3 linked regions of the Homo sapiens genome follow. The protein of the gene in region 2 binds, or shares a complex with, the protein of the main gene of each other region. Each region holds a gene or a part of one and is shown on either strand. Other genes may lie near its edges. A codon is read from its position in the direction of its gene.

Evidence for each region.
Region 1: the proteins of SUMO2 (region 2) and RANBP2 are in contact, whole or in part, in a crystal structure (PDB 3UIN), measured with the Homo sapiens proteins. Residues at the interface, in NP_008868.3 of Homo sapiens: His17, Asp26, Gly27, Ser28, Val29, Val30, Gln31, Phe32, Lys33, Ile34, Lys35, Thr38, Lys42, Leu43, Arg50, Gln51; in NP_006258.3 of Homo sapiens: Asp2630, Asp2631, Val2632, Leu2633, Ile2634, Val2635, Tyr2636, Glu2637, Leu2638, Pro2654, Thr2656.
Region 3: the proteins of SUMO2 (region 2) and SENP2 are in contact, whole or in part, in a crystal structure (PDB 3ZO5), measured with the Homo sapiens proteins. Residues at the interface, in NP_008868.3 of Homo sapiens: Arg56, Arg59, Arg61, Phe62, Asp63, Gly64, Gln65, Pro66, Asn68, Thr70, Asp71, Gln75, Leu76 (codon at 4,960), Glu77 (codon at 4,963), Asp82 (codon at 4,978), Asp85 (codon at 4,987), Phe87 (codon at 4,993), Gln88 (codon at 4,996), Gln89 (codon at 4,999), Gln90 (codon at 5,002), Thr91 (codon at 5,005), Gly92 (codon at 5,008), Gly93 (codon at 5,011), Val94 (codon at 5,014), Tyr95 (codon at 5,017); in NP_067640.2 of Homo sapiens: Gln385 (codon at 7,106), Asp386 (codon at 7,103), Leu395 (codon at 7,076), Arg396 (codon at 7,073), Tyr408 (codon at 7,037), His409 (codon at 7,034), Trp410 (codon at 7,031), Leu411 (codon at 7,028), Asn412 (codon at 7,025), Asp413 (codon at 7,022), Glu414 (codon at 7,019), Ser439 (codon at 5,257), Thr440 (codon at 5,254), Phe441 (codon at 5,251), Pro444 (codon at 5,242), Lys445 (codon at 5,239), Arg456 (codon at 5,206), Trp457 (codon at 5,203), Lys459 (codon at 5,197), His474 (codon at 5,152), Val477 (codon at 5,143), Trp479 (codon at 5,137).

Annotation. Positions count from the first base shown.
Region 1 is NC_000002.12:108,715,054-108,722,814, reverse strand, and holds the start of RANBP2 (E3 SUMO-protein ligase RanBP2), read right to left. Parts: upstream 3,334-7,761; 5' UTR 3,209-3,333; coding exon 3,137-3,208; intron 1-3,136. UniProt on the Homo sapiens protein: E3 SUMO-protein ligase which facilitates SUMO1 and SUMO2 conjugation by UBE2I. Involved in transport factor (Ran-GTP, karyopherin)-mediated protein import via the F-G repeat-containing domain which acts as a docking site for substrates.
Region 2 is NC_000017.11:75,165,886-75,173,360, reverse strand, and holds part of SUMO2 (small ubiquitin-related modifier 2 isoform a precursor), read left to right. Parts: intron 1-4,959; coding exon 4,960-5,022; 3' UTR 5,023-7,475. UniProt on the Homo sapiens protein: Ubiquitin-like protein that can be covalently attached to proteins as a monomer or as a lysine-linked polymer.
Region 3 is NC_000003.12:185,617,153-185,624,627, reverse strand, and holds part of SENP2 (sentrin-specific protease 2), read right to left. Parts: intron 7,149-7,475; coding exon 7,017-7,148; intron 5,330-7,016; coding exon 5,126-5,329; intron 2,803-5,125; coding exon 2,723-2,802; intron 631-2,722; coding exon 546-630; intron 1-545. UniProt on the Homo sapiens protein: Protease that catalyzes two essential functions in the SUMO pathway.

The sequences.
Region 1 (7,761 bases), on a different chromosome or scaffold from region 2:
GGTTCAAGCAATTCTCCTGTCTCAGCCTACCGAGTAGGTGGGACTACAGGCGCTGCCACCACGCCCGGCTCATTTTTGTATTTTTAATAGAGACGGATTTTCACCATATTGGTCAGGCTGGTCTCTCGGCCTCCCAAAGTGCTCAGATTACAGACGAAGAATATTTTTAAGGGCAAAAGCACATGTGAGGGAGTAGAAAAATGGCAAAACAAGAGAAGACTAACAAATGAAAGCACAATGAAAGACTAGAAAGATATGATATACAGACGCATCATCACACTCCAAAACTCCGACATTCTAGAAAGCATGGGCAGTTCACAGATGGCCAGCCTCTGCCAAACTGGGGGAGAATACTAACCTCTTCATATTCTTCACAGCCACTGCCTCTTCTCCCTCCATTCTTTACCTTCTATCCAAAGCACCCTGTTTTGTCATTTCACTCAAACCTAACTTTACAGAATAGCTTCACATGTTCCAAAGTTACTCACTAGTTAATCCATATTCCGCTGAAATCCCCAGGTTCTAATGTAAATGACTTTAAATTTGGGGGAAAAAAAAGACTCTAAGTGTAAGAGAGGTGTCATAATAACCAATCCTCAAAATTCTGCCACCACTCCACTTTATTTAATGGAGAAGTTATGTAGTTGAAAGAACATTCTAACTTCTGTCTAGACCAGTGGTTTTTAATCTTTTGGAAGCCAAGGTCCCCACTAAGAATCTCAGAAAGGCTCTAAGCTTGCTTTTTTTTTTTTTTAAGCTTGTTTAAAAAAAAAAAAATCAGGCTGAGCAGAGTGGCTCACACCTGTAATCTCAGCACTTGGGGCCAAGGCGGGAGGATCACTTGAGCCCAGGAGTTGGAGACCAGCCTGGGTAACATGATAAGACCCCGTCTCTACATTAAAGAAAAAAGCCGGGCATGGTGGCACATGCCTGTAGTCTCAGCTACCCAGGAGGCTAAGGTGGGAGGATGGATTGAGCCCAGGACGTCAACGCTGCAGTGAGCCACGATCCCGCCACAGCACTCCAGCCTGGGAGACAGAAAGAGACCTTGTCTCAAAAATAAAATAATGGCCGGTGCAGTGGCTCACGCCTATAATCCCAACACTTTGGGAAGTGGAGGCGGGGAAATCACTTGAGCCCAGGAGTTCAAGAACAGCCTGGGCAACATGGTGAAACCCAGTCTCTACCAAAAATACAAAACAAAACAAAACAGCGGGTGTGGTGGGTACACCTGTGGTCCCAACTACTCGGGAGACTGAGGTGGGAGCATCGCTTGAGCTGGGGAGGCGGAAGGTGCAGTGAGTCGAGATAGCGCCACTGCATCCAGCTGGGTGACAGAGTGAGACCCCACCTCAAAAAAAATAAAATAACACAAAAATTAAAGTCTTTAATTTCAGGAGTTACAGGAACCCTCAATTAAGGTCTGTTTTAGACTCTATCATCACATTCATATTTATACTATGCTAGCAGTTTGAAATTACAATGTACAAGTAGATATCTATCCTCCTCCTCTGGAGGAATAGACTGTAACTTACTCCACTGTTCCCAAGAGAAACTAAATCAGACCCACTGCCAAAATTCTGCTGCACTATCTATTTGACCCTGAACAAGTATCTTAAATCTCTACAGGTCTCAATATCCACAGGGCTGCTGGAAGCGCAAAATAAGATAACCTATGCTTAGTTACGATAAGAGACACAATTATGCTACTATTATAATCATGGTCATCCGTGAGTTTCCGGGTTTTTTTTGTTTTTGTTTTTGTTTTTTTGGAGTCTCCCTCTGTCGCCCAGGCTGGAGTGCAGTAGCGCGATCTCGGCTCACTGGAACCTCCGCCTCCCGGGTTCAAGCGACTCTCCTGCCTCAGCCTCCCGGGTAGCTGGGACTACAGGCATGCGCCACCACGCCCGGCTAACTTTTTTTGTATTTTTAGTAGAGACGAGGTATCAACATGTTAGCCAGGCTGGTCACGAACTCCTGACCTCAGGCAATCCGCCCTCCTCGGCCTCCCAAAGTGGTGGGATTACAGGCGTGAGCCACTGCGCCCCGCCAATATCCTTTTAACATCAACAATAAAAAGTGACTTGTAGCTAACATTTAGTGCTATGTGTCAAGCAATACCCTAAATGTTTAAAATGGATCATCCTATCAAATTCTATTAATGTTACAACTCCATCTATGGATGAAAAGTGTAACTGGCCCCAAATACCCAGCTTATAAACGACAGTGCTGTGATTATTCAAGCCAAAGCAAACTGACTCAAGATTCTGCGCACATCCACCTTTAATAGCTTCTTCCGTCACTCTTTAGATCCAATTACTAAAGTCTTATTGAATCCAAAATAGATCACATTATTTACATGTAAAGAGGAAAAATACCCTTAAAACATTTGTGGAAAAGGTTAAAAATTGCAAGCCATACTAACGATTTGTAAGAACTTTAGAATTTTTTTTTTTTAAGCAAAGGCAGCTACCAAAGTGTTCCGGGCGGGGAGGGGGGCGAGGGAGGTGAGTATGAGGAGCGGAGTGGAGCTGGACCCTTACAAAGGGACAGCGACAAACACCTCATACTCAAAACAAGGGGACTTTCAGTGTCATTTGCGCCGTCGGGCCATTGCAAATGTCCGCGCTGAGATGCCTACCTTGTCACTCGACGCAGCCGCCAAAGCTCACCCGGAGCTGCGTCAGTCCCCACTGGGTTCCTCCAGGCCAAGGAGGTACGACCTCCGCCGCAGCATATAAAGTATATGTCCAGGAGATGGGAAGAAACCCGCCGATACAGCACCCGGGTGCCCAAGCCCCCGAGAACTAGGCCGCGCGGGTACTACGGGGTGCGCGATCGGCCAGAAAGCCCGGGCCAGGGCGGCCCCAGGAGCGAGCACCGTCGGGAACAAGCGTCGGGAACAAGCCGGGAGAAAGAGGAAGCGCCGGCGCCAAAGGTCTCCCGCCCACCGCTGTCCCCCCAGGACTCTTCATGCGCTTGCAAGCGCCACGCCGCCCACAGGACTGCGCCAGCCGGCCGGCGCCTCAACAGAGCGCGCCAGGGAGCAGCGCCCGTCGGGAGCCATGACGCCTGAGCAGCGCGAGGCCGCCGCCCGGCCAGGTCGAGGCCGTCGGTCTCTTCGAGACCCACTCACCTGTCGAGGCGACGGGGTGGAGCCCTGCACCGAGGCGATGTACCGCTCCACGTCAGCCTTGCTGCGCCTCATCGCGCCGCCAACCTGGCTCCCGAGGCGCGTGAGACCAGCGCTCAGGCCCGCAGCAGTCGCCACTTCCAAGAGGAAAGCGCCTGCAAACCAGTGACGCAGCGCCGTAGCCGGCGGAGGACCACTGTGACGAACTTGCGGCGCAGCCGGCGGAGGACCACTGTGACGAACTTGCGTACTGCGTCAGCAGTGTGCGCCACGTTGGCGACGTCGGCGCTCGAGCTGCACTCGGCCAGGCTCTTGGCAGCGCCGCGTGCTCTGAGGGTGTCTTGGCAAGCCGGGATCAGATTTCGGCCGCCAGTGTCCACAGCCTAGGGCGTAGATTTCCAGCAGATAACAATTTGCGTGATGGGCTCTTAAGCGTTTTGGTCACTTGTTCTAAATTATAAGTGCGCAATGCATTGGAAGAAAAAAAGCACTCAGGCCAATTTGGTGAACGTGTAAATTGGAACAAAGTTTCTGGAGATGACTGGTTAAATACGTTGCATCGGACATGTGTGAATACTAAAGCATACATTTTTAAATTCATATCTTATTAAATGAGGGCCAGGCGTGGTGGCTCACGCCTGTAATCCCAGCACTTTGAGAGGCCACGGCGGGCGGATCATGAGGTCAGGAAATCGAGACCATCCTGGCTAGCACAGGGAAACCCCATCTCTACCAAAAATACAAAAAATTAGCCGGCCGTGGTGTCGGACGCCTGTAGTCCCAGCTACTCCGGAGGCTAAGGCAGGAGAATCGCTTGAACCCGGGAGGCGGAGGTTGCAGTGAGCCGAGATTGCGCCGTCTGGGCGACAGAGGGAGACTCCGTCTGAATTTAAAAAAAAAAAAAAAGGGAGATTTAGAACTGCATAATGAAAAAGACCACAAATATTAAGTTTTGGACAATTACAATTTTTTAAACAGTCATCTCGGCGGGGGATTGGTTCCAGAACCACCGTCTTATGCCAAAATCCACGCATTCCGCCGGGCGCTGTGGTTCACGCCTGTAATCCCAGCACTTTGGGAGGCCGAGGCGGGCGGATCACCTGAGGTCAGGAGTTCGAAACCAGCCTGGCCAACATGGCGAAAGCCCATCTCTACTAAAAATACAAAAAATTACCTGGGCGTGGAGGTGGGCCCCTATAATCCCAGCTACTCGGGAGGCTGAGGCACGAGAATCGCTTGAAACTGAGAGGCGAGGGTTACAGTGAGCTGAGATCGCGCCACTGCACTCAAGCCTGGGCGAGAGTAAGACTTCCTAAAAAAAAAAAGAAGAAGAAGAAGTCCGCGCATTCTCAAATCCCGCAGTCAGTCCTGCGGGTGGAACACTTAGAGGAAAAGTCAGACCTCTCTATATGCAGGCCCCTCCAATACTGTATTTTCTGTCGGCTTATAAGCGGGCCCAGGCAGTTCAAACCCATGTTATTCAAGGGTCAACTGTGTATATAGGAATAGCCATTCGCCTGGCACAGTGGCTTAAGCTGGTAGCCCCAGCACTTTGGGAGGTCGAGGCGGGAGGATCCCTCGAGTCCAGGAGTTCCAGGTTACAATGAACTGTGATAGCGCCACTGCATTCCATCCTGGGCACCAGAGTGAGACCCTTGTCTCAAAAAAAAAAAAAAAAAGGAAAAGGAATAGCCCCCCCAAATCTATATATATTTCACTAGCAGAATAACAGAACATACCAAAATTTAACAGTAATAATGTAAAGATTTTGAGCCGTCTGTATTTTCCAAATCTTCAAAAATGTCTATTTTGGGAATTTGGATATTAAAATCTTACTTTTAAAACAAAATTTAACAAAACATTTTTAATAGTGAGAACCTTTTAGATTTTAAAAGCTCACATTTGTGTAAACATTACAGTCTGAATTATGTGGACAAATATCAAATGCGTTGACATTTTTAACTGGAAATTTGGGCTATTTTGGTTGTGGATAATTTTTTATCCTTTTTGTTTTTCCATATTTTCTAAATTTTGATATAATGAACAAGTATTGCCTTTCTAAAAAAGGAAAAACAGCATTTTGTTTTATTTCAACAATATTGGATGTGAATAAAAGAAAAGAAAAAGATGATTCTGAGCTTACCAGTGTGTGTGACCCACATTAACAGAAATGACATGTAAAGAAAATCTAGTTTGGAGTGGAAAATCCTATTTTAGGTAGTTGATTTCTTTCACTTGAGGTACCATTTATATATCCATGTGGGGATAGCCTAGTAGGAAGATGAAATGGTAGGACAGAGATCTTGATGGAAGTCAGTAGTTGCGGCACAGTTCTGAGGCCCAGCTACTCCAAAGGCAGAGGGGGAAACATCCCTTTAGCCCAGGATTGGAGACTGCAATGAGTTATGTTCATGCCTTTGCACTCCAGCCTGTGGAAGAGAATGAGATTCCTATCTCTAAAACGAAAAGAGGGCCAGGCACGATGGCTCACGCCTGTAATCCCAGCACACTGGGAGGCCCAGATGGGCTGATTGCTTGAGGCCAGGAGTTCAAGGCCAGCCTGGCCAACGTGTTGAAACCCTATCTCTACTAAAAATGCAAAAATTAACTGGGTATGGTGGTGCATGCCTGTAATCCCAGCTTCTTTGGATGGCTGAGGCACCTGAATTGCTTGAACCTGGGAGGTGGAGGTTGCAGTGAGCTGAGATCGTGCCAGTGCACTCTAGCCTGGGCAACAGAGCAGACTCTGTCTCAAAATAATAATAATAATAATATTTAATTAATTTAAAAATAAAAACCAAAAGAGAAGATCTGATGGACTTAAAAGTCATATATCTCAGGTGATAGGTGAAACCACAAGTTTGCCTTGAAAAGTGTGTTGATAACAATAGCCATAGCTAACAAGTACTTGCTGTGTTCCAAAGCTCTTTCTGTTAGCACTTCATTTGTATTAATATCATTCTTCCACCAACTTTGTAAGGGTACTGTTATTATCCTCAGTTTTTACAGATAAGGAAAGCAAAAGACAGCCAGGCACCATGGCTCATGCCTGTAATCCAAAACTTTGGGAGGCTGAGGTGGGAGGATCACTTGAGCCCAGTAGTTCAAGACCTGCCTGGGCAACATAGCAACACCCTGTGCTTACAAAAAAAAAGAAATTAAAAACTAGCCAGGCATGGTGGTGCCTGCCAGTAGTCCCAGCTATTTGGGAGACTGAAGCAGGAGGATCTCTTGAGGCTAGGTGTTGGAGGCTGCAGTGAGCTATGTTCACTCCACTGCACTCCAGCTTAGGTGACAGAGAAAGACCCTGTCTCCAAAAAAAAAAAAAAAAAAAGGAAACCAAGAGAATGAGCACTGAAGCAACTTGCCCAAACATACTCACCTAGTAAAAATGGTATCATTAATCCATTTATGTTGAATATATCGAAAAGGAGTGCCCAAAGAGAGAACCTTCTTTTTCCTTCTTTCTTTTTTTTTTTTTTTTGAGACGGAGTTTCACTCTGTGGTCCAGGTTGGACTGCAGTGGCACAATCTCGGCTCACTGCAACCTCTGCCTCCCAGGTTCAAGCAATTCTTGTGCCTCAGCCTCCTGAGTAGCTGGGATTACAGGTACATGCCATCACACCCGGGTTATTGTTGTATTTTTAGTAGAGACGGGGTTTCACCGTGTTGGACAGGCTGGTCTTGAACTCCTGGCCTCCAGTGATCCATCTGCCTCGGCCTCCCAAAGTGCTCGGATACAGGTGCCCGGCATCCACCGCGCCCAGCATCCAAAGAGAGAATCTTCTTGAGGAACTCAAAAGACTTTTCTCTTTTGGATAAGCAGTTCATATTTCTGCATTTATTAGGGATTTTCACATTTTACTTCATTTTACACTACATTTTTTTTTTGTTCAGTGGTATAACATTTTCACCAAGGCACTGAAAATTCCATTTGCATTAGTGTCCAATGTCATATATTCCCTACCATGTTGCAAATACAGTTCATTTGTCCAGCTTTATTGAGGTATAATTCACAAATAAAAATTGTATACATTTACTAGGTACAACATGATGTTTTGCTGTCCAAGCATACCTCATTTTATCGCACTACATTTTATTGTACTTCACAGATACTATGTTTTTTACAAATTGAAAGTTTATGCCCACCCTGTGTCAAACAAATCTTTCTGCATCATTTTTCTTTTTTGAGACAGAGTCTCACACTGCCACCCAGGCTGGAGTACAGTGGCAAGATCTCAGCTCACTGCAACCTCCTGTGGCAGGCCAGGTCTCACTAATGCAGACTTTCATAACAACTGTTTCAGTAATTACTGAATGAAGTTAAATACTAAAAGCCAGTGCCCTTATACAAAGGCTGGGATGTAACAAAAGGCCATCAAAACTTTTGCCTAGGCCTGTCCTGGGCCTTAAAGCATGACACAATAATGAAGGAATTTTTTTTTTTTTTTGAGATGGAGTCTTCCTCTGTCACCCAGGCTAGAGTGTAGCAGCAGGATCTTGGCTCGCTGCAACCTCTGCCTCCCAGGTTCAAGTGATTCTCCTGCCTCAGCCTCCTGAGTAGCTGGGATTACAGGCATGCATGACCACGCCCGGCTAATTTTTGTATTTTTAGTAGAGATGGGCTT
Region 2 (7,475 bases):
TAGCAAGACCTGGTCTCTACAGGAAAGAAAAAGAGCTGGGCATGGTAGCATGTGTCTGTAGTCCCAGCTTCTTGGGAAGTTTAGTGGGAGGGGTGCTTGAGTCCAGGAGTTTCAGGCCGCAGTGAGTTATGATCATACTACTGCACTCCAGCCTGGGCGATAGAGCAAAACTCTGTCTCAAAAATAGAAGACTTACAGTTTCTGAAACATATTTTACAATGTTGTGATAGTAGAAATTTAAATTGGATCCCATGTACTTTTGAATTTCAACTTTATCACCCAGTAAAAACTAGAAAGTGATAAATGTGGCATGAAGCAGCACATCCAGATTGTAGTTTTGTTGATAATCTTTGAAAATTGGAAAAGCCCCTGAGTTGTACTGAAAAGAAGAATATTTTGAAGACATTTCAACTGGTGACAGTCTCTCAAAAGGAATTACGGGCCAGGTGCACTTGTTCACACCTGTCATCCTAGCACTTCAGGAGGCTGAGGCAGGCAGATTGCTTGAGGTCAGGAGTTTGAGACCAGCCTGGACAATATGGTGAAACCCCGTGTCTGCCAAAAAATACAAAAATTAGCCAGGCATCGCCGGGCGCAGTGGCTCATGCCTGTGATCCCAGCACTTTGGGAGGCCGAGGTGGGCGGATCACCTGAGGTTGGGAGTTTGAGACCACTCCGACCAACATGGAGAAACCCCGTCTCTACTAAAAATACAAAATTAGCTGGGTGTGGTGGCCTGTAATCCCAGCTGCTCGGGAGGCTGAGGCAGGAGAATCGCTTGAACCCAGGAGGCAGAGGTTGCAGTGAGCCGGAGATCACGCCATTGCACTCGAGCATGGGTAACGAGCGAAACTCAAAAAAAAAAAAAAAAAATTTAGCCAGGCATGATGGTGCACGCCTGTAGTCCCAGCTACTCAGGAGGCTGAGGCAGGAGAATCACCTGAACCCGAGAGGCGGAGATTAAAGTCAGCAGAGATAGTGCCACTGCACTCCAGCCTGGGTAACAGCCCCTGTCTCAAAAAAAAAAAAAAAAAAGTCTGGGTACAGTAGCTCACGACTGTAATCCTAGCACTTTGGGAGGCCAAGGCAAGTTGATCACCTGAGGTCAGCAGTTCAAGACCAGCCTGGCCAACATGGCGAAACTACCCCGTCTCTACTAAAAATACAAAAATTAGCCGGGCATGGTGGTGCTCACCTGTAATCCCATCCCAGCTACTCGGGAGATTGAGCCAGGAGAATCTGGGCGGGGGAAAGGTGTCAGACAGTCGAGGTTGCAGTGAGCGCGGAGGTCATGCCACTTCACTCTAGCTTGGGTGAAAGAGTGAAACCCTGTCAAAAAAAAAAAAAAAGGCGCAATTATGGTATGTAGCCACAAGGAGGAGCTAAATTCTATTGATAAATGAGGCTGGTACAGGAACCTCATTTTTTAAAGGCATTTACAGTTTCACTGTAAAACTTCACATTTGGATAATTTTGTTTTAGTAGATAGATGACAGGCTTGTTTGGTTTTAAAAGAAATAGTAAAAAGTATCTATTGTGCTGTACTCTCAGTTATTAGAATGTATTTCCTGTCTTTAAGCCCTCCTTACCCACCACTAAAACGGGATTATCTGCTATAGTAGTTACAAATATTAAACAAGGAGTTATTTGTTTGGATCCGTGACCTTGAGGCATTTTAAAATCTTCAGGTTGAATTTGCAATTCATTTTACTTCATTTTGAAGAATTTGGAATTGATTCGTTTTAGAATTATTCTCCCAATATTTGTTAGATAGCAGGATTGTGATAAATTAAAACATCTTAGCAGGCCTCCTGCCTCCCCAGCTTTTTTTTATTTTTTTATTTTTCGAGACGGAGTTTTGCCCTGTCTCCCAGACTGGAGTGCAGTGGCGTGATCTCAGCTCACTGCAACCTCTGCTTCCTGGGTTCAAGCGATTCTCCTGCCTCAGCTTCCCGAGTAGCTGGGATTACAGGCGCCCACCATGATGCCTGGCTAATTTTGTTTTTATTTTATTTGTTTATGTTGTTTTTATTTTATTTTCTGTATTGACGGAGTCAGTACAAAATTAGCTGGGCATGATGGCGCATGCCTGTAATCCCAGCTACTTGGGAGGCTGAGGCAGGAGAATTGCTTGACCCGGGAGGCAGAGGTTGCAGTGAGCCAAGATTGCGCCATTGCACTCCACCCTGGGCAACAACAGCGAAACTCCATCGCAAGAAAAAATAGAAAAACACAAATGTAGTCATACAATAAGCTGCTTTGCTCCTTGGGGTGTACTTTTTTTTTTTTTTAACTGCCCCTTACAGAGCATGGCTAACTTATATAGTCAGTGCACCGAGTTGGCTGCTGCTTAGTTTTAAAATTGTGTTTTTAGCCTAACACTGTATCTACTGTATCTTAAAGATATTTTCATTTCTGTACATGAAAATCTTATTTTTTAACGGCTATATGGTATTTAATATCTGAGCATACTATGTTTTATTAATTTGGGTTTTTTTTTTTTTTTTTTGAGACCTGGAGTCTCGCACTGTCACCCAGGCTGGAGTGCAGTGGCGTGATCTCAGCTCACTATAACCTCCACCTCCCAGGTTCAAGTGATTCTCCTGCCTCAGCCTCCTGAGTGGCTGGGATTACAGGCACCTGCCACCATGCCCAGCTAATTTTTTGTATTTTTAGTAGAGACGGGGTTTCACTATGTTGGCCAGGCTGGTCTCGAATGACTGACCTTGTGAGCCACCACGCCTGCCGTGGGTTTTTTGTTTTGGTGTTTTTTGTTTTTGTTTTTGTTTTTTGAGACAGAGTCTTGCTCTGTTGCCAGGCTGGAGTGCAGTGGGGCAATCACAGCTCACTGTAACCTCCACTTCACGGGTTCAAGTGATTCTCCTGCCTCAGCCTCCCGAGTAGCTGGGACTACAGGCGTGCGCAACCACACCCAGCTAATTTTTGTATTTTTGGTAGAAACAGGGTTTCACCATGTTGGCCAGGATGGGTTTGACCTGTTGACCTGGTGATCCGCCCACCTTGGCCTCCCAAAGTGTTGGGATTATAGGCGTGAGCCCCGGCGCCCAGCCTAATTTGGGTTTTTATTGAGATTTGTTTTCAGTCTTTGCTAAGCAGTGCAGCGAGATTCTTTAAACATATCACCCTTCTGTGGGCCCTCGACACAGACATATTCAGCTTTCATTTATTTAATTTTTTTGAGACAGTTTCTTGTCACATGCAATGGCATGATCTTGGCTCACTGCAACCTCCACCTCCTGGGTTCAAGTGATTCTCCTGCCTCAGCCTCCCAAGTAGCTGGGATTACAGGCGTGCAGGCGTGCGCCACCACGCCCAGCTAATTTTTTTGTTTTGTTTTTTGTATTTTTAGTAGAGACTGGGTTTCACCATTTTGGCCAGGCTGGTCTTGAACTCCCGACCTCAGGTGATCTGCCTGCCTCGGCCTCCCAAAGTGTTGAGATTACAGGTGTGAGCTGCCACACCCGCCCCCCCCCACCTTTTTTTTTTTTTTTGAGACCAAGTCTCACTCTGTCACCGGTGTTGGAGTCCAGTGGCACAATCTTGGCTCACCACAACCTCTGCTTCCTGGGTTCAAGCGATTCTCCTGCCTCAGCCTCCCGAATAGCTGGGATTACGGGCACATGCCACCATGCCCGGCTAATTTAAAAAATATTTTTAGGCCGGGTGCAGTGGTTCACGCCTATAATCCCAGCATTTTGGGAGGCCGAGGAGGGTGGATCATGAGGTCAGGAGATCTAGACTGTCCTGGCTAACACGGTGAAACCCCGTCTCTACTAAAAATACAAAAAATTAGCCAGGCGTTGTGGCGGGCACCTGTAGTCCCAGCTACTCGGGAGGCTGAGGCAGGAGAATGGCGTGAACCCAGGAGGCGGAGCTTGCAGTGAGCTGAGATCCTGCCACTGGACTCCAGCCTGGGCGACACAGGGAGACTCCGTCTCAAAAAAAAAAAAAAAATTTTTTTTTAATAGGGATGGGGTGTCACCAGGTTGGCCAGGCTGGTCTTGAACTCCTGACCTCAGGTGACCCGCCCACTTCAGCCTCCCAAAGTGTTGAGATTACAGGAGTGAGCCATTGTGCGTGGCCCTAGCCTTTTTTTCTCTTTTTTTGATACAGGATCTTTTGCTTTGTCACTCAGGCTGGAGTGAGCTGGTGTGGTCTCAGTTCACTGCAGCCTTGATCTTATGGGCTCAATTGATCCTCCCACCTCGGCTTCCTGAGTAGCTGGGAGTATGGACATGTGTCACCATGGCTGGCTAATTTTTTTTTTTTTTCCTTTTTTTTTTTGTAGAGATGTTGTCTCCCTATGTTGCCCAGGTGGTCTCGGTCTCTTGGGCTCAAGCAATCCTCCAATGTTGGCCTCCAGTAGTACTGGGATTACAGGCATGAGCCACCGCACCTGGCTAATATTCTGCTTTTTACTCAAAAACTAAGTTTTGGCTGGGCGCAGTGGCTCACACCTGTAATCCCAGCACTTTGGGAGGCCGAGGCAGGCAGATCACTTGAGCTCAGGAGTTTGAGACCAGCCTGGCCAACATGACGAAACCCCATCTCTACTAAAAATACAAAAAAATTAGCTGGGCATGGTGGCGGATGCCTGTAATCTCAGCTACTTGGGAGACTGAGGCAGGAGAATTGCTTGAACCTGAGGGGTGGACGTTGCAGTGAGCTGAGATCACGCCACTGCAGTCCAGCCTGGGTGACAGAAATCCTGTCTCAAAAAAAAAACAAAAAAGTTTTATCTAATAGTCATAAAAAAGGAAGCCAAGTGAAAAATTACTTAAACCAAGTGTGTTGATACATTAAGCTATGAGACATCTAAAATAATGAAACTTGGAACTTAGTGGAACATGTACATGTTTTCAGCATACTTAAACCCAAAAATCATTAATTTTCAGAACTTAATCAGTGCTTTTACATTTGTTTTTTCTTTTATGCTAGTTGGAAATGGAGGATGAAGATACAATTGATGTGTTCCAACAGCAGACGGGAGGTGTCTACTGAAAAGGGAACCTGCTTCTTTACTCCAGAACTCTGTTCTTTAAAGACCAAGATTACATTCTCAATTAGAAAACTGCAATTTGGTTCCACCACATCCTGACTACTACCGTATAGTTTTCTCTATTCTTTCATTTCCCCCTTCCCCATTCCTTTATTGTACATAAAGTAACTGGTATATGTGCACAAGCATATTGCATTTTTTTTTTTTTTAACTAAACAGCCAATGGTATGTTTTGATTGACATCAAGTGGAGACGGGATGGGGAAAAATACTGATTCTGTGAAAATACCCCCTTTCTCCATTAGTGGCATGCTCATTCAGCTCTTATCTTTATATTCCAGTAAGTTATTTTGCTCTCACTGTTTTAACAAAAAAAAAAAACAACAACATAAAAATCCTTGCATACCTTGTTCAATTGGAGAATTTTAATGTTTTTCATTTATCATTGTAAAACCAAGGACAATTTTATAACTTTTTTGTACGTAGCTGTTACATGTAGGGCAATCTGTCTTTAAGTAGGGATAAATTACTCTAAAACAAAAAAGAATCCTAGATAGTTTTCCCTTCAAGTCAAGCGTCTTGTTGTTTAAATAAACTTCTTGTTTAAAATGAGCTGTTTTCTTTATTCTGAGAAATATTAAATAGAAAATTGAGGCTTAGAAAAAACATAAATAGGCCTGCTTAGAAGTAACATTTCAAGAAGGAAATAAAGCTACTTGGTGTTTCTGACAGACTGATACTGATGCCAAACAAAGAATAACAGTTTTATAAATATCACCTTGTTCCAAAAGTTTCTCTAGGTCCCATGTTAATATGCAAGTATACTAGCAGAAAAATTGGGCCATAGTATCGTGGATTTCCAGGTATTTTCTGTATATTAAGTGAGGCACGGAGCATAGGGTATAGGGTAGCACATGTGGCAAGGAAAAAGTTCTGATTTTGCCTTTGTTGCTGATAAAACACTGAACCATTCTAGCCTGCACTTATCATAAGTAAATACTCCCTAACCTAAAATAAAGTTTTCGTTCCTTATTCAAGGATTTTTTTTTTGAGACGGAGTTTTCCTCTTGTTGCCCAGGCTGGAGTGTAGTGGTGCAATTTCAGCTCACTGCAACCTCAGCCTCCTGAGTAGCTGGGGGGTCATAGGTGCATGCCACCACGCCCAGCTAATTTTTTTTCTATTTTTAGTCGAGACAGGGTTTTATCACGTATGCCAGGCTGGTCTCGAACTCCTGACCTTAGGTGATCCACCCGCCTCAGCCTCCCAAAGTGCAGGGATTACGGCATGAGCCACCACGCCTGGCCTATTCAAGAATATTGAGGGACAGAAAATATCTATATATATCCATCCTCAGAACCTTAAATATACAGGTCACTACAGTCTTTATTATTTTAATTTTTGTTTCTTAGGGTTTCTTTTGGTGGTGGTTTTTTGAGATGGAGCATCATTCCGTCTCCCAGGCTGTAGTGCAGTGGCACAATCTTGGCTCACTGCAAGCTCCGCCTCCCGGGTTCACGCCATTCTCCTGCCTCAGCCTCCCGTCTTAGGTCTTTTTGAAAGAGGTTATGCCTCTGTTGCCTAGTCTGGAGTGGTGCAATGGTGTGATCTTGGCTCACTGCAACCTCCACCTCCAGGTCTTAAGAGATCCTCCCTGCTCAGCCTCGTGAGTAGCTAGAACCGCAGGTGCATGCCACCACAGCTAATTCTTGTATTTTTTATAGAGAGTGTTTCGCCATATTGTCCAGGCCGGGCTCAAACCCCTGATCTTAAGTGATCTATCTGCCTTAGCCTCCCAATGTGCTGGGTTTACAGGCGTGAGCCACTATGCCCAGCCCCTTTTTAATTTTTTAAAAATGTTTATTTTTGAGATGGAGTTTCGCTCTTGTTGCCCCAACTGGAGACCAATGACATGATCTCAGCTCACTGCAACCTCCGCCTCCCGGGTTCAACTGATTCTCCTCCCTCAGCCTCCGGAAAAGCTGGGATTACAAGCATCTACCATCATACCTGGCTAATTCTGTATTTTTAGTAGAGAAGGGGTTTCTCTATGTTGGTCAGGCTGGTCTCCACCTCCCGACCTCAGGTGATCTGCCTGCCTTGGCCTCCCAAAGTGCTGAGATTACAGGCTTGAGCCACTGTGCCCGGCCAAATTTTTATTATTTTTAAATTAGAGGTGGGGTCTCACCATGTTGACCAGTTTGGTCTCGAACTTCTGGCCTCAGTCCCTTGTCTTGGCCTCCCAAAGTGTTGGGGTTTCAGGTGTTAGACCCCATGCCCAACCACTACAGTTTTTGTTTTTGTTTTTGTTTTTTTTTCAGACGGAGTCTTGCTCTGTCGCCCAGGCTGGAGTGCAGTGGCGCAATCTTGGCTCACGGCAAGCTCCACCTCCCGGGTTCACGCCATTCTCCTGCCTCAGCCTCCCCAGTAGCTGGGACTAAAGGTGCCCGCCACCATG
Region 3 (7,475 bases), on a different chromosome or scaffold from region 2:
CTGGGATTACAAGTGTGAGCCACCGCGCCTGGCCCAAACTTTTCAGTTTAGAAATTAAAATGCTTTTTTTGGCATGGGATCCTAAGACTTAAACAAACTCCCAAATTTTGGAAAAGAAATGTAAACTTTCATTAGCACCAACCGGGAAATTAGCCAACTTCAATGTATTGGGTTTCTTCCCAATTCTGTGAGAGACATGCAAGCATATGTTAATATTTACATTTAGACAAGAAGATGAAAGCTAAGCACCCATTTTAGTTAGATTAATTGCTAGAGATTTAGAAGCAGATCATTCTTAAGATGTAGACTCTGGCCAGGCATGGTGGCTCACACCTGTAATCCCAGCACTTTGTTTTGGGAGGCCCGAGACTAGCCTGGGCAACAAAGCAAGATCCCATCTCTACAAAAAAGAAAGAAAGAAAAAAAAAGATGTGTACTTTAAAAGCATGCAGGGAGGGAGGAAGGGCAGGAAGGGAGCCAAATCTAGATAATATACTATTAGTAAATGCAACCAAGTATGTCACATGTAGATGATCGTCACTCACGTGTGGTTTCATGCTGTGATGGGTCCACTCTAAAAGATTCAGATCACTATTTCTTTTGGTCTTACTTTCATCCTGTAAATACTGACTAAAAAGCAAAACAAAGAAGGAATACATCAATAAATCCCTAAAGAAATTAACCATTATGGTTACATAGGGCTTTCTGATGTTAAACAGATATGCCATTCTCAAATCCATATTCATTAGCTTTTTAAAAACGTGACTGCTTTCTGGATTTTTTTTTTTTTTTTTTTTTTTTGAGACAGAGTCTCGCTCTGTCGCCCAGGCTGGAGTGCAGTGGCGCGATCTCGGCTCACTGCAACCTCTGCCTCCCGGGTTCACGCCATTCTCCTGACTTAGCCTCCCAAGTAGCTGGGACCACAGGAGCACGCCACCACGCCCTGCTAATTTTTTGTATTTTTCTTAGTAGAGATGGGGTTTCACCGTGTTAGCCAGGATGGTCTCGATCTCCTGAGCCTGTGATCCCGCCTGCCTCAGCCTCCCAAAGTGGCTTTCTGGATTTTTTATTTAATTTGGGGAGGTCTGCTTATAAAAATTGTACATGCTTGTTTTTAAAAGTTGAAATATATATCAGGTTGATAAGCATTAGATGCCCCCACCAAAATTAAGATACAAAAAATAACATAGGCCGGGTGCGGTGGCTCACGCCTGTATATCAACACTTTGGGAGGCCAAGGCGGATGGATCACCTGAGGTCGGGAGTTTGCGACCAGCCTGACCAAAATGGAGAAACCTCATCTCTACTAAAAATACAAAATTAGCCGGGCGTGGTGGCACAAGCCTTTAATACCAGCTACTTGGGAGCTGAGGCAGGAGAATCTCTTGAACCCGGGAGACAGAGGTTGCGGTGAGCCGAGATCACGCCATTGCACTCCAGCCTGGGCAGCAAGAGTGAAACTCCATCTCAAAAAACAAACAAATAAATAAATAACATAAAAAGCCAAAGACCACCGGGCACGGTGGCTCACGCCTGTAATCCCAGCACTTTGGGAGGCTGGGGCGGGCGGATCACCTGAGGTTGGGAGTTCAAGACCAGCATGATCAACATGGAGAAACCCTGTCTCTACTAAAAATTCAAAAATTAGCCGGGCATAGTGACGGAAGCCTGTACTCCCAGCTTCTTGGGAGGCCGAGGAACGAGCATCACTTGAACCCAGGAGGCAGAGGTTGCAGTGAGCTGAGACTGCACCACTGCATGGGGTGACACAATGAGACTCCATCTCAAAAAAAAAAAAAAAAAAAAAAAAGCATGAATGTAATAAAGTATGAATTTTCAAATCCTGGTATAAGCAGCACATCAAACTATACTGTATGATCCCAGTAAGAACATTTCTATACATGGGATAATATATGTATACATATGAATGCAAATGTATGTGCGCACAATTTATACACATCTTACAAAGAAAAGACTAGAAGAGAACCATTTTATAAACAATTGGTGTATCTTATGATTTTTAGAATTTTCTTCTCTATGCTTTTTATTCAAGATAAACAACCATAAATAAAAATAATATTTTATACTAAAACAATATTATTGTTAGCAACAACTTTTCTTCACAAGATTCATTTGTCCTTAGTAAAGTTAAAAGAAGGAACTTCATTGCTTCTAGTGAGCAGAAAAGGAAAAATGGACCCATCTTACTGATGCGTTTTCTCACTCAACTCATGTCACTACTTTACCTAGCTAAGAAGTAGGTATGCTTTAAAGATTGGTTTCTATTATAGCAATTACTATTTGAAACAGTCTCCTCAAACCACACACTTTAAACACTGCCCCTGGGTTCTGAGATAAACCCAACTCTCATGGAAAGCATAAAGATACAAATGGGCTTAAGAATTGAGAGGACTAGCACTCCCCAACTAACAGTTCCTAAGAACATTCAGAATAACGTATCGATGCCAAAGAAATCTAATGCAAGTCACAGGATTCTAATAAGATCTATTTTACATCATAATACATGACAAACTTGTTTCCAGTGATGCTACTAAACACGTTTTCTCAGTTGAAATCAGCTATTATTTTAAAAATAAAATGCATGCTAAGTCCTGAAATAGCCTTAACTACACATTAGACTACCATCCACACAGCTTCCTAGGATGAGATAAAAGAGAGATCACCTCAACAGGGGGTAGTGAGGTTTTCAACCTTTACTTACAGGAGAATCTCACAGATCCTGTGGCCCTTTTGTCCCATAGAATCCAGATATTTAAGACACTTTTTTCTTAGGTCAATCACCTATAATGGAAAAAGATAACATCCAGAAACATCTTAAATGTAAGAGGAGTGAGAATTTTACTTCCAAAAATAAAAGCATCTTTTAAAAAATACATGTACCAATATAAATTTTTTATGTATCTTAGAAATCCATTTATGGGCCATGCATGGTGGCTCACACCTGTAATCCCAGCACTTTGGGAGGCTGAGGCGGGCGGATCATGAGGTCAGGAGTTCGAGACCAGCCTGACCAACATGGCGAAACCCCGTCTCTACTAAAAATACAAAAATTAGTCGGGCATGATGGCACGCGCCTGTAATCCTAGCTGCTCAGGAGGCTGAGGCAGAAGAATCACTTGAACCCGGGAGGCAGAGGTTGCAGTGAGCCGAGATTGTGTCACTGCACTCTAGCCTGGGTGATAGCGAGACTCTGTCTCAAAAAAAAAAAAAAAAAAAAAAAGAAAAAAAAGAAAAACGATATCCACTTATATTGGTACATGTATTTTTTTTTTTTTAGTTAAAAATGTGTCTTACGTATCTTTAGTAAAAAAAGTGTGTTTTTAAGTTAAAAAATTAGTGGTCCTCTCAGAGTGATGAGACTTTTTTTTTTTTTTTTGCTTTCTTTATATCTGTATCTTTCTTTCCTTCTTTTCTTTCTTTCTCTCTCTCTTTTTTTTTTTTTTTTTTTTTGAGACAAGATCTCACTCTGTGACCCAGGCTGGAGTGCAGTGGTGTGATCACGGCTCACTGCAGCCTCGACCTCCTGGGCTCAGGGAATCTTCCACCTCAGCCTCTCACAGGTGTGCACCACCATGCCCACAAAGCTGGGACCACAGGTGTGCACCACCACGCCCAGCAAATTTTTAAATTTGTATAGACAGGGTCTTTCCATGTTGCCCAGGCTGGTCTCAAACTCTTGGGCTCAAGCAACCCCTCCTGCCTCAGCCTCCCAAAGTCTGGGATTATAGGCATGAGCCACCACACCTGGCCTTATAAATGCATTTTTCTGCAATAAACCTGTACTATCTTGTAAACAAAACTAAATAAATATAAATAACCCTTATGCATACTAAGACTCTTTCCTGTTAAAAATGAAAGCTCCTCGGCCAGGTGCGGTGGCTCCCGCCTATAATCCCAGCACTTTGGGAGGCTGAGGTGGCGGATCACGAGGTCAGGAGTTCAAGACGAGCCTGACCAACATGGTAAAACCCCATTTCTACTGAAAATACAAAAATTAGCCAGGTATGGTGGTGGCACGTGCCTGTAATCCCAGCTACTCAGGAGGCTGATGCAGGAGAATTGCTTGAACCCAGGAGGCGGAGGCTGCAGTGAGCCGAGATCGTGCCATTGCACTCCAGCCTGGGAAACAGAGCAAGACTCCATCTCAAAAACATACAAACAAACAAAAAAAAGCTCCTCAAGTACAAGGACTTCGTCCTGTAGCCTTCTAAAAGTTGTTCAACTCAAGAACTAAAAAGGAGGCCAGGTGCGGCATCTCACCCATCATTCTGAGAGGCTGAGGTGGGAGGACTGCTTAAAGCCAGGAGCTCAAGACTAGCTTGGGCAAAAAAACAAGACTCTTGTCTCTACAAAAAAATTAAAATAAATTAAAAAAAATTAGCCAGGCATAGTGGTGCATGTCTGTAGTCCCAGCTACCTGGGAGGCTAAAGTGAAAGGATCACTTGTGCCCAGGAGGTGGAGGTTACAGTGAGCTATGGTTGTGCCACTGCATGCCAGCTTGGGTGGCAGAATGAGACCCTGTCTCTAAAAATAAAAATTTAAAAAAAAAAAAGAAAAAGAAAAAGAAAAAAAGGCCAGGCATGGTGGCTCACACCTGTAATACCAACACTTTGAAAAACTGAGGCAGGAGAACCACTTGAGGCCAGGCGTTGGATACCAACCAGGGCAACATAGCAAGACTCCATCTTTCCAAATATATAAATAAATAAAATTAGGCAAGCATGGTGGACCATGCCTGTAGTCCTAGTCACTCAGGAGGCTGAGGCAGGAGGATCACCTGAGTCCAGGACTTCCAGGCTGCAATGAGCTATGATCACACCAGTTCACTCCAGCCTGGGCAACAGAGCGAGACCTGGTCTGTAATTTTAAAAAATAGTAAAATAAAATAAACATAAAATTTTTTAAAGAATAAATAAATAAAAAGAACTAAAAGGGTTGGGTGAAGGATGGGACATTAAAAAAAAAACTAAAAAGAGACTCTGCAGAGTATGCTTATAATATATACTATTGGCCTCTATACACAGGGCAGAAAAAGGCAGCATTATTTTTAAAAAATGGCCTTTATCCAAGTCCAACAATTAACCATTAACCCTCTCTACTCACCACCAGGCTCCAATGTACCTTCCGATGAATAGGCACCAGAATAATTTCTTGTTCAAAGAGATTTACCCCTTTGGTCCATCGTTTCACTGCTTGGTAACCCCCAGACTTTAATTTAGGATAGAAGAAAGTACTGAATACATGAAGTGCTGGATAGCCTTGCTTTTTATTTCTTTCCACCAGAAGATTCATGTAAAAATTAATGACCTACAAAATACCAAGGGAGCAAAAGCTGGAACATGGCAAACATATTATCAAAACTAAATTTCTACCTGAATAAGGATGAATTCGAAGGTAAGGTACTAAAGAAGAGGATAAAAAGACTGTCTATAGTAGAAGACAGGGAAAAAAGTGATCAGTGCAAAATGGGACACATGAAAATGAAATGAAACTGTACTTTTAAGGCATGTGAGTAACACTTAACAGCCAGAAGAAGGAATCCAGGAAGAAAGTCTGTGCAATAATGGAAAGATCTACATAACTGTATCACACCAAAAATACGCAGAAATATTAACAGTAAGTGAATTTTACTACATATAAATTAGACTTCAATTTTAAAATATTAACTTGAAGGACATACACCAAAATAATATTTTATTTATCTCTGAGTGGTGATACTTTTTTTTTGAGACGGAGTCTTGCCCTGTCGCCCAGGCTGGAGTCCACTGGCGTGATCTCGGCTCACTGCAAGCTCTGCCTCCCGGGTTCACACCATTCTCCTGCCTCAGCCTCCCGAGTAGCTGGGACTACAGGTACCCGCCACCATGCCTGGCTAATTTTTTTGTATTTTTAGTAGAGACGGGGTTTCACCGTGTTAGTCAGGGTGGTCTCGGTCTCCTGACCTCGTGATCCGCCCGCCTCAGCCTTCCAAAGTGCTGGGATTACAGGCGTGAGCCACCGCGCCCGGCCGAGTGGTGGTACTTTTGAACAGTAATATTTTTTACTTTTCCTGTATTTTCCAAATATTCTACGATAAACAAATTACATTTATAATGTAAAACAAAACATTCCTGTTTTCAAAGAATGTGTTTATAAGTAACTAGTCATAGGGGACTTCCCTCAAAGAGAGAACATGCAGGGGCTAAGCAGTTCGGGGAAGAACCCACCAGAAAATTGTCAAAGAACTTAAGAGTTAGCTTTTGCTAAATGTATTAAGGATACAAGATGACAAGTTAGGCAAAATTTTTCAGCTATCACTCAAAGAAAAATACACATAGTATATAGTGATCAATATATCCCTTTATTACTCAAAAAATAAAACAGGCCAGGCACGGTGGCTCACGCCTGTAATCCCAGCACTTTGGGAGGCCAAGGCGGGCGGATCACCTGAGGTCCAGAGTTTGAGACCAACCTGACCAACATGGAGAAACCCTGTCTCTACTAAAAATACAAAATTAGCCGGGCATGGTGGCGCATGCCTGTAATCCCAGCTACTTGGGAGGCTGAGGTAGGAGAATTGCTTGAACCCAGGAGGTGGAGGTTGCGCTGAGCCAAGATTGCGCCATTGCACTCCAGCCTGGACAACAAGAGCAAAACTCTGTCTCAAAAACAAAACCAAAAAACAAAAACAAAAAAATAGCTACTATAAGAATTCACCTAAAATACAGTATCACTTGCTGCTTCCTCCCGTTTATCAGCTGTACCCAGGGTTTATTGAAGACCAGTAAATGAAGTGGTGGATGCAATAAAATACAGACGCAGAAAAGGGAAACATCGCTAATCAAAGGCAGAAAATCAGAACTAACCATCTTTTTAAGATTTAAAATGTTTTTGTTTTAATTATAACTAAGAGTTGCATTACCAACCCATTATAACTGGGTAGGAGTCACTTTGATTATAGATAATAAATAAATAAACTTAATGATAGCCAAAAGGGGGAGGGAATACAACTTACTTCATCATTGAGCCAGTGATAGTTCTTTAATGTCTGAATATCTCCTCGAGTAATTCGCAATTTGAAAGCACTACTTAGGATTTCATCCTGTGGGCCATGGCCTAGGGCATTACTGATTTCCTTTTCCATGTCCTGAATTAGAAAGTTCAGAAGTTGCTATTTTAATATAGAACCATTCATTATCAGTTATTGAAAACTCCGAGACTGAAAAAAGTTTTTCATCTCGGCAACACCTGACTCTTGAGAAAAATATACTATCAAAGACCTACTAAACTACAGTAGGAAAACATTTTTTTCTTATTTTTAGTGATAGAGATGGGGCCTCATTATATTGCCCAAGTTGGTTGCAAACTCCTGGGCTCAAGCAATACCTGCCTTGGCCTCCCAAAGTGCTGAGATTATAGGCATGAGCCACTGCACCAGCCCTGAAAATATTTTAACTTATAACTACAAAGCAGC